Homo sapiens: one gene and its partners. The protein of the gene in region 3 purifies or fractionates together with the protein of the main gene of each other region. This does not show direct contact. Each region holds a gene or a part of one and is shown on either strand. Other genes may lie near its edges.

Region 1 (2,437 bases), on a different chromosome or scaffold from region 3:
ATGTCTTCAACTCAGCAGAGATGGCCCTCTGGGACCCTATACGGACTCCGCCACTTGAGAGCAGTCCTAGGCCCGGCAGGAACACCAGACATGAACAGGTTGAAGAACTGGAGCGAAGTGCACACCTCACCATCCTTCAGTCTAAGGAAGAAGGGCAAGCCCTGGGACCAAGAGCTCTCCCGCCTTCTCCCTCGAGCAGCAGCAAGGACCCTGACGCTGTCCCCGATAACTCCCTAGGGGCTCCTGCCTGCCCAAGCGGCTGAGAACCAGCGCCCCGATGCCTGAGGCTGGGAGCCTGAGCCCCTTCAGCTTTGAGGGGGGTGATACTCCAGGCTGTTTGGGGTGGGAGCCAAAAAGAGTTGAGAGGCCAGGGCCCTTGGTGGAAAGGGGCACCAGCCTTGGTCTGAGATAGTCACAACCCAGGTGACGATGCCCTCTCAGCCAACACTGCCAACCTGACCCTGTCATCCCGATTGACAGCGCCACTTCAGGTGGCTGGGTGACTAAAGGGCTTGTCTTGGTGGGGTCTCCCACCCCTCCAAGACCCATTCTGCACAGTCCCTCCAGGGTTTGGGCAGGAGATGGCCAATCATGCGCCCACCTCTCCAGTGCTGCCTGCAGTCAGCTCGGCCTCCCCGACCTGCAGCCCCAGACTCTGCTCTCCCAGCACTGACTCACTCCTGCCTGGGAGGGGAATGCAGCATTCATGCTGTGTGTCCTGGTATTGGGAGGTTTCTGGGAAGGGCAGAGGATAAATGTGGCCCTGCCTGCTCCCAGGTATACCTAGGACCACCTGGCCAGATCCGCTCCCAGACGGCCTTGGACTGCTTGCATTTCCCCGGAGAAAAAGGGGTTAATAAATGGGCCATCCTTTCCTGAGCTCTGGGTATACTACCAGTCACAGAACGTCAGAGCTGGAAGAAGCCTTAGAGCTCAACTTCTTCAAGCCCCTCACTTTACAGATGAGGAAATGGAGGTGGTCCAGAGAGGGTCTGGGATTCCCAAGGTCACACAGCCCAGAAGAGATGGGGCTGGGTTAAGAACTCGAGTCTTCCACCTTTCTGTTCAAGGCTGTTTGTCTACCCAGAGGAAGGAGGCACTGCTGAATGGCTATGGCCTGGCTAAGAAGGTGATTAGTCAGTAGGGTGTGAAAATTCTACTTCAAGGGGTTCGGATTGGTGATCATGGGGATTGGCATGGCTGGGTTCCCGTCCAAGGTGTGGGCAGAGCTTCTACCAAACTTCAACATGGAGGGCTGACTTGAAGCTCCCTGTCCCCCTCACTCTTGCCCCAAGAAAAGAGGCCAAAGCAAGAGCAGATTCCCTAGGCAAGAGCAGCAGCACAACTAGGAAACCCCAAAGCCCATGCTCCGACAGGTGGCCCTTCACAGGGGGCAGCGGGACAGGCATCTTGAAGGGCATATGTCCTCGGAAGCTCCGAGCCTGTTTTCTGTAGTTTATAGTTAGAGCTCTATTTTGTTATGGTTTTTTAAACTTTTAAGTCCTGCTCTATTTTCCTGGGCAGGTTTATGTTGATGTTTACCCACTACAATTTTTTAAAAATATAAGCTCACATGCCTTTTCCCTGCCACAGCCAAACCCCCACTGCACCCTACCCACCCACCCCTAGCCCAGGTCAGCTTTCCTGGAGCTGGCTAATGAAAGCCTCCTCACCTCTTCCCAACCCTTACAAGCAAGGGTGCTAGGGGCTCAGCTATACGACCATTCTCCCTGACAGGGAGTCCAAACTTGGCCTAGCATCCCTCCTGGCCCCCCTCTGGCCACGACTTGGCCTGTGCCTGGTTCTCTATCAGAAAGGGGATGCTGAACAAAACCTCCTTCCAAGTTTTATCCAATTCGTTCCTCATTGCCTCGGGCTGCGTCAGGGGAAGCAGGGGACAGGTGTCCAGTTGCTGGGCCGAGGGAGGAGCTGGTTTGGCATAGGACCTAACCAGTGAAGCTAGAGGCTACAGCCACTAAACTTGCTTCAGGCCAACGATAGTTACTCACAAGTAAGTACCTTAATGCTAATGAGGTCCACTAAAAAGGGGAGGAAGGCAGACCTCCTGGGAGACCCACGAAGGGTTTTTAGCCAGGGAAAACTGAGCCCCAGGAAAACCTAACCACTGGGCAGGCAGAATTTGTTTGAGGGATAGAACGACAACAAAATAAATGTTCCTGCAGCCTGAGATTTCAGGTAGAGTACTGACTAAGGTTTAATAAGACAATAGGTGACCTGAGGACATGCAAGCTTGTAAAATGCAACAGCCTCCTGCTAGAGTGACTTGTACATGAGCTTGCTTGCAGAAGACTAGATTAGATGTTTCTCAGGATCCCCTCCTGCGCAGGGGTTCTCTGATTTTCGTGTTCTCTGCCCAGATGGGCTGGGGGAGTTGAGAGTGTGCTTATTTTCACTGCGATCATGAGACCACAGTTCT
Region 2 (3,648 bases), on a different chromosome or scaffold from region 3:
CTCAGTTTCCCAACTTTGAAACTGCGTGCTGGTACATGGGGAAGCACCTGCTGGAGGCATTCAAAGGTACTGGTCACTCCGGGGTGGGCGTCCAAGCCTGGGGCTCTTGGCTGTGGGGGCAGCCAGACCTGGTCAGGGCTGACTGTCTGGGTGTGAGTGCCGCCTTCCTGTGGCCTGAGCAAGTCCTCTTGGGACTCAGACCCCTGGGGCTCAGTTTCCCCATCTGTATAATGCAGGACTAGATTGAACAGGCTGGGCCTCTCCTTCCGATTGGACTGTCCCTTGTTTTAGAACGAACACTGGGCTGTGGGTTGAGAGGGGTGAGTGTGCATGGCCTCAGTGCAGGTATCAATCACACCTGCTCCACCCTCCACACTTGCCTCCATTGGGAGGGTGGAGCCCTGGCTCTGTCACCAGCTGAGGAGTGGGTGCGAGTGGGCTCTGGGTCCCCTTAGGCTCCCTCAGGGGCCTGGCAACTGGACCGTGAGGCAGGCTTGTGGCTCGGTGGCCCTCTGTGGATGCACTTTGGCATCCCCGGGCCGCCCTTTTCTGTCCCAGGTCCTGCCTGGCCACACCCTCAGAGATGAGAGCAGGTGGCTCCTGCCAGCCACCACCCTGTCCAGGCCTCCAGACTGCCCAGCAGCGTGAGGGAGCCTGCAGGAGAGTTTGCATTTATGCGTGATTTCCTTTCTCGGTGTGGTTGCTCTTAGTTGCTCTTTTTTGGTTCTAATAGCAGCCAAGAGCTCTTTTATGCAGACCCTTTGTACTCTGGCCCTAGTTTGAGAAGGTAAAATGGTCCTTAGTCACGGCTGGCCAGGTTGCGGTAAGATTTTCCCACTGTTCCCCAAATCTGGAGCCCTGAGCTTGACTCTGGCAGAAGGAAGTGCCCAAGATGGGAGTCTAACCCTGCCCTCAGGGGACTGGTGCCAGGGAGGCAGGGATCAGGGCAGCACCTGGGAAGCCACCCCACAGGGCCAGCCTGACTACTGGCCAGCCAGGCCACTGTGGCCATATCCTCTCTGCCTGACCCTCCCTCTCTGAGTGGACGACAGTTCAGTTGGCCCCCAGGACTGAGAGGACCCAGGGAGCTGCCATGGTCCTGGTGCGTCAGAGCCCTGGAGCCCTGGAGCCCTCTTCAATGGGAAGAGGGAGGGGAGGCCCACAGCAGGAGCACACCTCCCAGCTGAAATGTAGTTGGTCCCTACACTGTGCTAAGGGGCGCCATGAGGTGGGAAGAGATGCTTGGGGATGCCTGGTGTGGGCCCATGGACAGCCTGTGGCCTGGGTCCTGGCATGACTGTGTCCCCTTGCTCAGGTAGGGCTGGGGTATTGGGCAGAGTGAGGAGAGCAAGGCAGCCTGTGTTAGGGGCCTGGAGGGTGAGACAGTGGGAGGATGGTGGGAGGGCCAATCTTTCCTCAAGCAGGGCAGGCCACCAGGAGGATGGGCGCCCCCAGGTTCCAAGAGGAACTGTTGGCAGTTGAGCTGGTGGCCATGGGCGGAGGGAGACCTCTGGAAGGCTGGACCTGGCATCCCCCGGTCTGGCTATGTGGCTGGGCATGAAGGCACCTGTGGGCAGCAGGCACCCACCCACCTCACCCAGTGTCTCCTTCCCAGGCTCTCACAAATCTGGGAAGCAGCTGCCCCCTCATCTAGTCCAAGGAGCTAAAATTCTCAATGGTGCTTTCCGATCGTGGACGAAGAAGCAGGTAGGAATCATGTCACAAATGCCCTAGGGCAGGAGAGCAGTGACAGGCGGGAGGACCTCCCTGGAGACCCAGCAGCAATGTCCAGGACTTGTCCTGCTTCAGTGAGATCCAGCCTGGGAAGGACGGTGGTGCTCCCCTGCCTGGCTTGGCCCGGGGTGTGCCTTTGCCCCAGACACCCCATGGGTCCGTCCCCTGCTGTCCACTGATTGGGCCACCTGAGGGCTGGGGGAGGACAGATGTAGATGCAGAGCCCCCTCCATCAGGGGCTCACAGCTTAGTCACAAGTTGGTGGGAGGAGGGTGACCAGGTGCTGGTGTGTCCTGGGAGGAAGGTGGGTCTGTGGGTGGGGGACAGATGGCCTATGGTGGGATGACACTGTGTGAGCACAGAAAGGCCTGGAACCTGGTGGGGGCAGGGAAGGACTGGGGGAGTGGCTGGCCCCAGGACAGGGAGTGCTGGGGACACCCTGTCGGCTCCTCCTGGCTGGCCCTGGCATCAGCTCAGAAGCTAAGCTGCCTGATTGCAGGTGCAGCACCCCAGCCACCTTGCTCTGTGACCCGGGCAGCCCCTCCCTGTGACTCTTACCGATGACCATCCTGTGCGCGCCCCCACAGAAGCCACTTACTGTGTTGCTTAGCATCTTCCCTTGGTTTTGGCTACAGAAGGGAGGGGAAGGTCTGGCCCAGCCTCGAGCACCCTCTGGGACAGTGTTTCCTACTGGGCTCATTGTGCAGAGGTACTATGCCCACTCTTGAGGGAGGAGGACCCTCTCCCAGGCCAGAGAAGGCCAGTGGAGATTTACAGGAAGCCTTCAGGGAATACAGGCTGCAGGGAATACCATGTGTAGCCTGCCTTTCTCATGGGTGGGCCAGGCAGGAGAGGCAGCCAGTGCACTCCCAGGGCCATCCTGCAGCCACCACCTCCGTCAGGCCTCAAGGCCCAGGGCAGTCCAGGGCGCCCCTGCCACCTCACCTTAGCCATGTGGCTGGGTGGAGTGGCCTCTGACCAGGAAGAAGGGATGGGACCCTTGTCCATTCCATAGCCTGCTGGTGGTGGCCTCAGGCAAGCTTGTCCTCTCTGGTACTTGGTTTGTCCACCTATTGATGGGGGCTCACAGCAGAGACCTCTTGCCAGGGCAGAGTTTGGCTCGGAAGCCCCTCGCCTCATGCTCATCTGAGTGGCTCGGCAGTCAGGCGACAGCCTGCAAGAATGCAGGGGTAAGTCAGGACCACGGGAGGTGTCTGGTGCTGACCCTGGGTCCGGTTGTCCTGCAGGCTTTGGCAGAGCATGAGGACGAGCTCCCGGAGCACTTCAAACCTTCACAGCTAATCAAAGACCTGGCCAAAGAGATCCGGCTCAGTGAGGTGGGGCCGTGTCCAGGTGCTGGGCTGGACCCCTGGGGATTGGGGAGGGCCCACCTGTCTTTCTCTGGGTCCAGGGGCCAGCCTAACACAGAGCTGCCAGGTCTGGGAAGGCCAGTGCCCCAGATGGTCCTCCTTGCACTTTCCTGGGCAAGCTTGCCTTTGTGAGGGCTCAGGGTCCTAGGTCTCTGGCTGGGTCTGTGTCCTGGTGTGAGTGTGTAGGGACTGAGAAATGGCACCAGCCTCTCTGAAACTCCCATGGGGAGGGCACTCTGTGGGAGGAGCCCCTGACTCAGCCCCTGCAGTCCCAGCTTGTGTGTTCCTGGATGAGCCCTCAGCCGCTGTGCTGGGGTAGGACAGAAGAGCCTTGGGGAGAGCAAGTGACTCATGGCATGTCGCAGGTGTGAGTGTGTCACACAATAGCATGGGTTGGGTGTGAGTGTGTCACATGATGGTGTGGGGTAGCTGAGCCTTTCTGGGCTGATAGTTCCCCGCCAGCCTGGCACTGAGTGTCTCCAGCATCCTGGTGTGTGGACCGTCTTGGGCCACAGTTTGGCAGAAGCAGCATGTGACCCTCTCC
Region 3 (3,648 bases):
GGGAGGCCAGGGGGTGGGGAGGACAGGGGGTTTTGGGAGCAGAAGATGAAGGTGAAGGGGCAGGTCCAGTTCAAGGGACAGAGTGGCAAGGAATGAGGGATGTGGGGCCTGTACCTAAAAGGGGTGTGGACTCTTGGGAGGGGCAGGATGGGGTCTTGATAGATGCCGGGGGTGGGCCAGCCCCAGTAGCCTCACGGTTCTGCCCGTGCACAGCTAAGCCGGAGCAAGCCCTGGAGCCACCACTTGTATCCAGCACCCTCCTCCGGTCCCCAGGGTCCCCGGTAAGATCTCGGGCACTGGGCGGTGGGGCTGTGCCCACGGCCTTCAACCCGACTCTCCGCCCTTCTCCACCCCAGCAGGAGACAGTCCCTGAATTCCCCTGCACATTCCTTCCCCCGACCCCGGCCCCTACACCGCCCCGGCCACCTCCAGGCCCGGCCACATTGGCCCCTTCCAGGCCCCTGCTTGTCCCCAAAGCGGAGCGGCTCTCACCCCCAGCGCCCAGCGGTAAAGAGAGGGGTTGCAGGGATTGGGGGAATCTAGGGGATGAGGGGAAGAGGAGGAAGAAGAAGGGGACTGGGTCTGGGGCCAGATGAGAGGAAGGGGGCAATGGGGACCCTTTCCCCTGGGTCGGTCTTTCTGTGGGTCTGTCTGTCCCTACCACAGGCAGTGAACGGCGGCTGTCAGGGGACCTCAGCTCCATGCCAGGCCCTGGGACTCTGAGCGTCCGTGTCTCTCCCCCGCAACCCATCCTCAGCCGGGGCCGTCCAGACAGCAACAAGGTGGGCACCATCCCCCACCCCAAGATCGGTTTGCTACCCCCAGGCCCTCCTGGGCTCCTTCCTAGGCTCACCCAACTCTCTGCTCCCCGAGACCGAGAACCGGCGTATCACACACATCTCCGCGGAGCAGAAGCGGCGCTTCAACATCAAGCTGGGGTTTGACACCCTTCATGGGCTCGTGAGCACACTCAGTGCCCAGCCCAGCCTCAAGGTGAGCCCCGGGCCCAGGCTGGCACCCCCAAAACCACAGGGCCCCTTTCTGGACCCCCCCCACCCAAAACTCAATTGCAGGGGAGTGCTCCAGACACTCTTGCCTCCTCCCATCCCAGTGCCTCAGTGGGTCCCAGGGTACAGCCTCTAGCACCTGCCTGAGCCCCCCTGGTGGCGTCTGCAGGTGAGCAAAGCTACCACGCTGCAGAAGACAGCTGAGTACATCCTTATGCTACAGCAGGAGCGTGCGGGCTTGCAGGAGGAGGCCCAGCAGCTGCGGGATGAGATTGAGGAGCTCAATGCCGCCATTAAGTAGGCAGGGTCCAGGCGGGTGCTGGGACCAGGGGGCCATGCCGCCTTACCCCCAGCCCCTGACCCCTGCCCTGCCCCCAGCCTGTGCCAGCAGCAGCTGCCCGCCACAGGGGTACCCATCACACACCAGCGTTTTGACCAGATGCGAGACATGTTTGATGACTACGTCCGAACCCGTACGCTGCACAACTGGAAGTTCTGGGTGGTATCCTCCCTCAAGCCCATGGCTGGGGGGCTGCAGGGGCTGTGGCAGGGTGAGACCAGGCTGGGCCTGGGATGGAGGCCTAGCTCTCCAGGCCGGGCAGGCTCAGAGCTGCTCCCAGGTGACAGGCTCTGGCTCTGCCCCCTGCTTCCATGCCCTGGCCATCTTGGCCAGCAAAATTGCCCAGGGATGGGGGGCTGGGAGCAGAGAGGGAAACTGAGGGAGGAGTCCTTGGGTAAGGGGAGCCTTGGCCCTGACCTCAGGAAGCCCCGAGGGCAGTTTGGGAGAATCTGAACTCTGGAGTGAGGACTACAGAAGACTTGGAATCCACTCCCTGATCTGGCTCAGGGGTCAAGTTCTTGACTGAGCCCAGGCAGGGAGCTCAGGGATGGGGGATGGTTCAGCACACAGTAAGGGCCGTGGAGGGGCAAGGAGGAGGGGACTGAGAGGCAGAGAGCTGGGAAGGTCTTGGCAGGACAGAAGTAGGGACTGCAAGCCAGGTGCGGTGGCTCACGCCTGTCATCCCAGCACTTTGGGAGGCCGAGGCAGGTGGATCACTTGAGGCCAGGAGTTCAAGACCAGACTGGCCAACATGGCAAAACCCCATCTCTACTAAAAATACAAAAATTAGCCAAGCGTGGTGGCATGTGCCTGTAATCCCAACTACTCGGGAGGCTGAGGCAGGAGAACAGCTTGAACCTGGGAGGTGGAGGTTGCAGTGAGCCAAGATTGTGCCACTGCATTCCAGCCTGGGCAGCAGAGTGAGACTCTGTCAAAAAAAAAAAAAAAAAAAGTCCGAGCACAGTGGCTCACGCCTGTAATTCCAGCACTTTAGGAGGCTGAGGTGGGTGGATCACGAGGTCAGGAGTTCGAGACCAGCCTGACCAACATAGCGAAACCCCGTCTCTACTAAAAATACAAAAATTAGCCAGGTGTGGTGGCGCACACCTGTAATCCCAGCTACTCAGGAGGCTGAGGCAGGAGAATTGCTTGAACCTGGGAGGCAGAAGTTGCAGTGAGCTGAGATCGTGCCACTGCACTTCAGCCTGGGTGACAGAGCGAGACTCCGTCTCAAAAAAAAAAAAAGAAGAAGTAGGGGCTGCAACATGAGTCATTGGGGTTCAACGTTAGACAGTGTCCAGGCCCTTTCTTCCCCTGGTTTGAACTGGGCATCAGGGCTCCACGTGGTGTGGGGGGACCAGCTGGACCACAGGCAGCTCCTTGACCTGGGCCCAGTTCAGCATCCTCATCCGGCCTCTGTTTGAGTCCTTCAACGGGATGGTGTCCACGGCAAGTGTGCACACCCTCCGCCAGACCTCACTGGCCTGGCTGGACCAGTACTGCTCTCTGCCCGCTCTCCGGCCAAGTACGTGAGCCATCTCCCTGCCTGCTAGAGGGACCCAGCCTCGGGGGTGGAGGGAGCATTCCACCCTGCTTAGATCCCACATCCAGCTTGCCATCAACACAGCCTAGGGTTGTGGCCACCCCGCATCCCCCAGATGGTCCTCTGGCCACCAGACGCCTGTAGACAGAGGTTCTAGGAGGGGGTGACAGTCTTGCCAACTAATACCTCCCCCTATCCCTTTGGTTCCACATCCAAGGGTAGGGCCCTGACCCCAGGAAGTGTCTGTCTCTCTCTCTCTGTCTCCCACCCAGCTGTCCTGAACTCCCTACGCCAGCTGGGCACATCTACCAGTATCCTGACCGACCCGGGCCGCATCCCTGAGCAAGCCACACGGGCAGTCACAGAGGGCACCCTTGGCAAACCTTTATAGTCCTGGCCAGACCCTGCTGCTCACTCAGCTGCCCTGGGGGCTGCTTTCCCTGGGCACGGGCTCCAGGGATCATCTCTGGGCACTCCCTTCCTGCCCCAGGCCCTGGCTCTGCCCTTCCCTGGGGGGTGGAGCAGGGTCCAGGTTTCACACTTGCCACCTCCTGGAGGTCAAGAAGAGCAGAGTCCCCGTCCCTGCTCTGCCACTGTGCTCCAGCACCGTGACCTTGGGTGACTCGTCCGCTGTCTTTGGACCGCTGTGTTTCAATCTGCAAAATGGGGATGGGGAAGGTTCAATCAGCAGATGACCCCCAGGCCTTGGCAGCTGTGACATTGGGGGCCTAGGCTGGCAACTCCGGGGGCTCAACGGT

What was found.
Region 1: the proteins of MLXIPL (region 3) and CNTN2 purify together in Homo sapiens (affinity purification with mass spectrometry, with the first as the bait; one study listed by BioGRID). This does not show direct contact.
Region 2: the proteins of MLXIPL (region 3) and PHF2 purify together in Homo sapiens (affinity purification with mass spectrometry, with the first as the bait; one study listed by BioGRID). This does not show direct contact.

The regions. Positions count from the first base shown.
Region 1 is NC_000001.11:205,074,079-205,076,515, forward strand, and holds part of CNTN2 (contactin-2 precursor), read left to right. Parts: 3' UTR 1-2,437. UniProt on the Homo sapiens protein: In conjunction with another transmembrane protein, CNTNAP2, contributes to the organization of axonal domains at nodes of Ranvier by maintaining voltage-gated potassium channels at the juxtaparanodal region. May be involved in cell adhesion.
Region 2 is NC_000009.12:93,656,530-93,660,177, forward strand, and holds part of PHF2 (lysine-specific demethylase PHF2), read left to right. Parts: coding exon 1-66; intron 67-1,615; coding exon 1,616-1,707; intron 1,708-2,981; coding exon 2,982-3,071; intron 3,072-3,648. UniProt on the Homo sapiens protein: Lysine demethylase that demethylates both histones and non-histone proteins. Enzymatically inactive by itself, and becomes active following phosphorylation by PKA: forms a complex with ARID5B and mediates demethylation of methylated ARID5B.
Region 3 is NC_000007.14:73,593,498-73,597,145, reverse strand, and holds part of MLXIPL (carbohydrate-responsive element-binding protein), read left to right. Parts: intron 1-213; coding exon 214-281; intron 282-356; coding exon 357-507; intron 508-666; coding exon 667-782; intron 783-873; coding exon 874-993; intron 994-1,176; coding exon 1,177-1,304; intron 1,305-1,385; coding exon 1,386-1,509; intron 1,510-2,742; coding exon 2,743-2,872; intron 2,873-3,162; coding exon 3,163-3,281; 3' UTR 3,282-3,648. UniProt on the Homo sapiens protein: Binds DNA as a heterodimer with MLX/TCFL4 and activates transcription. Binds to the canonical E box sequence 5'-CACGTG-3'. Plays a role in transcriptional activation of glycolytic target genes. Involved in glucose-responsive gene regulation.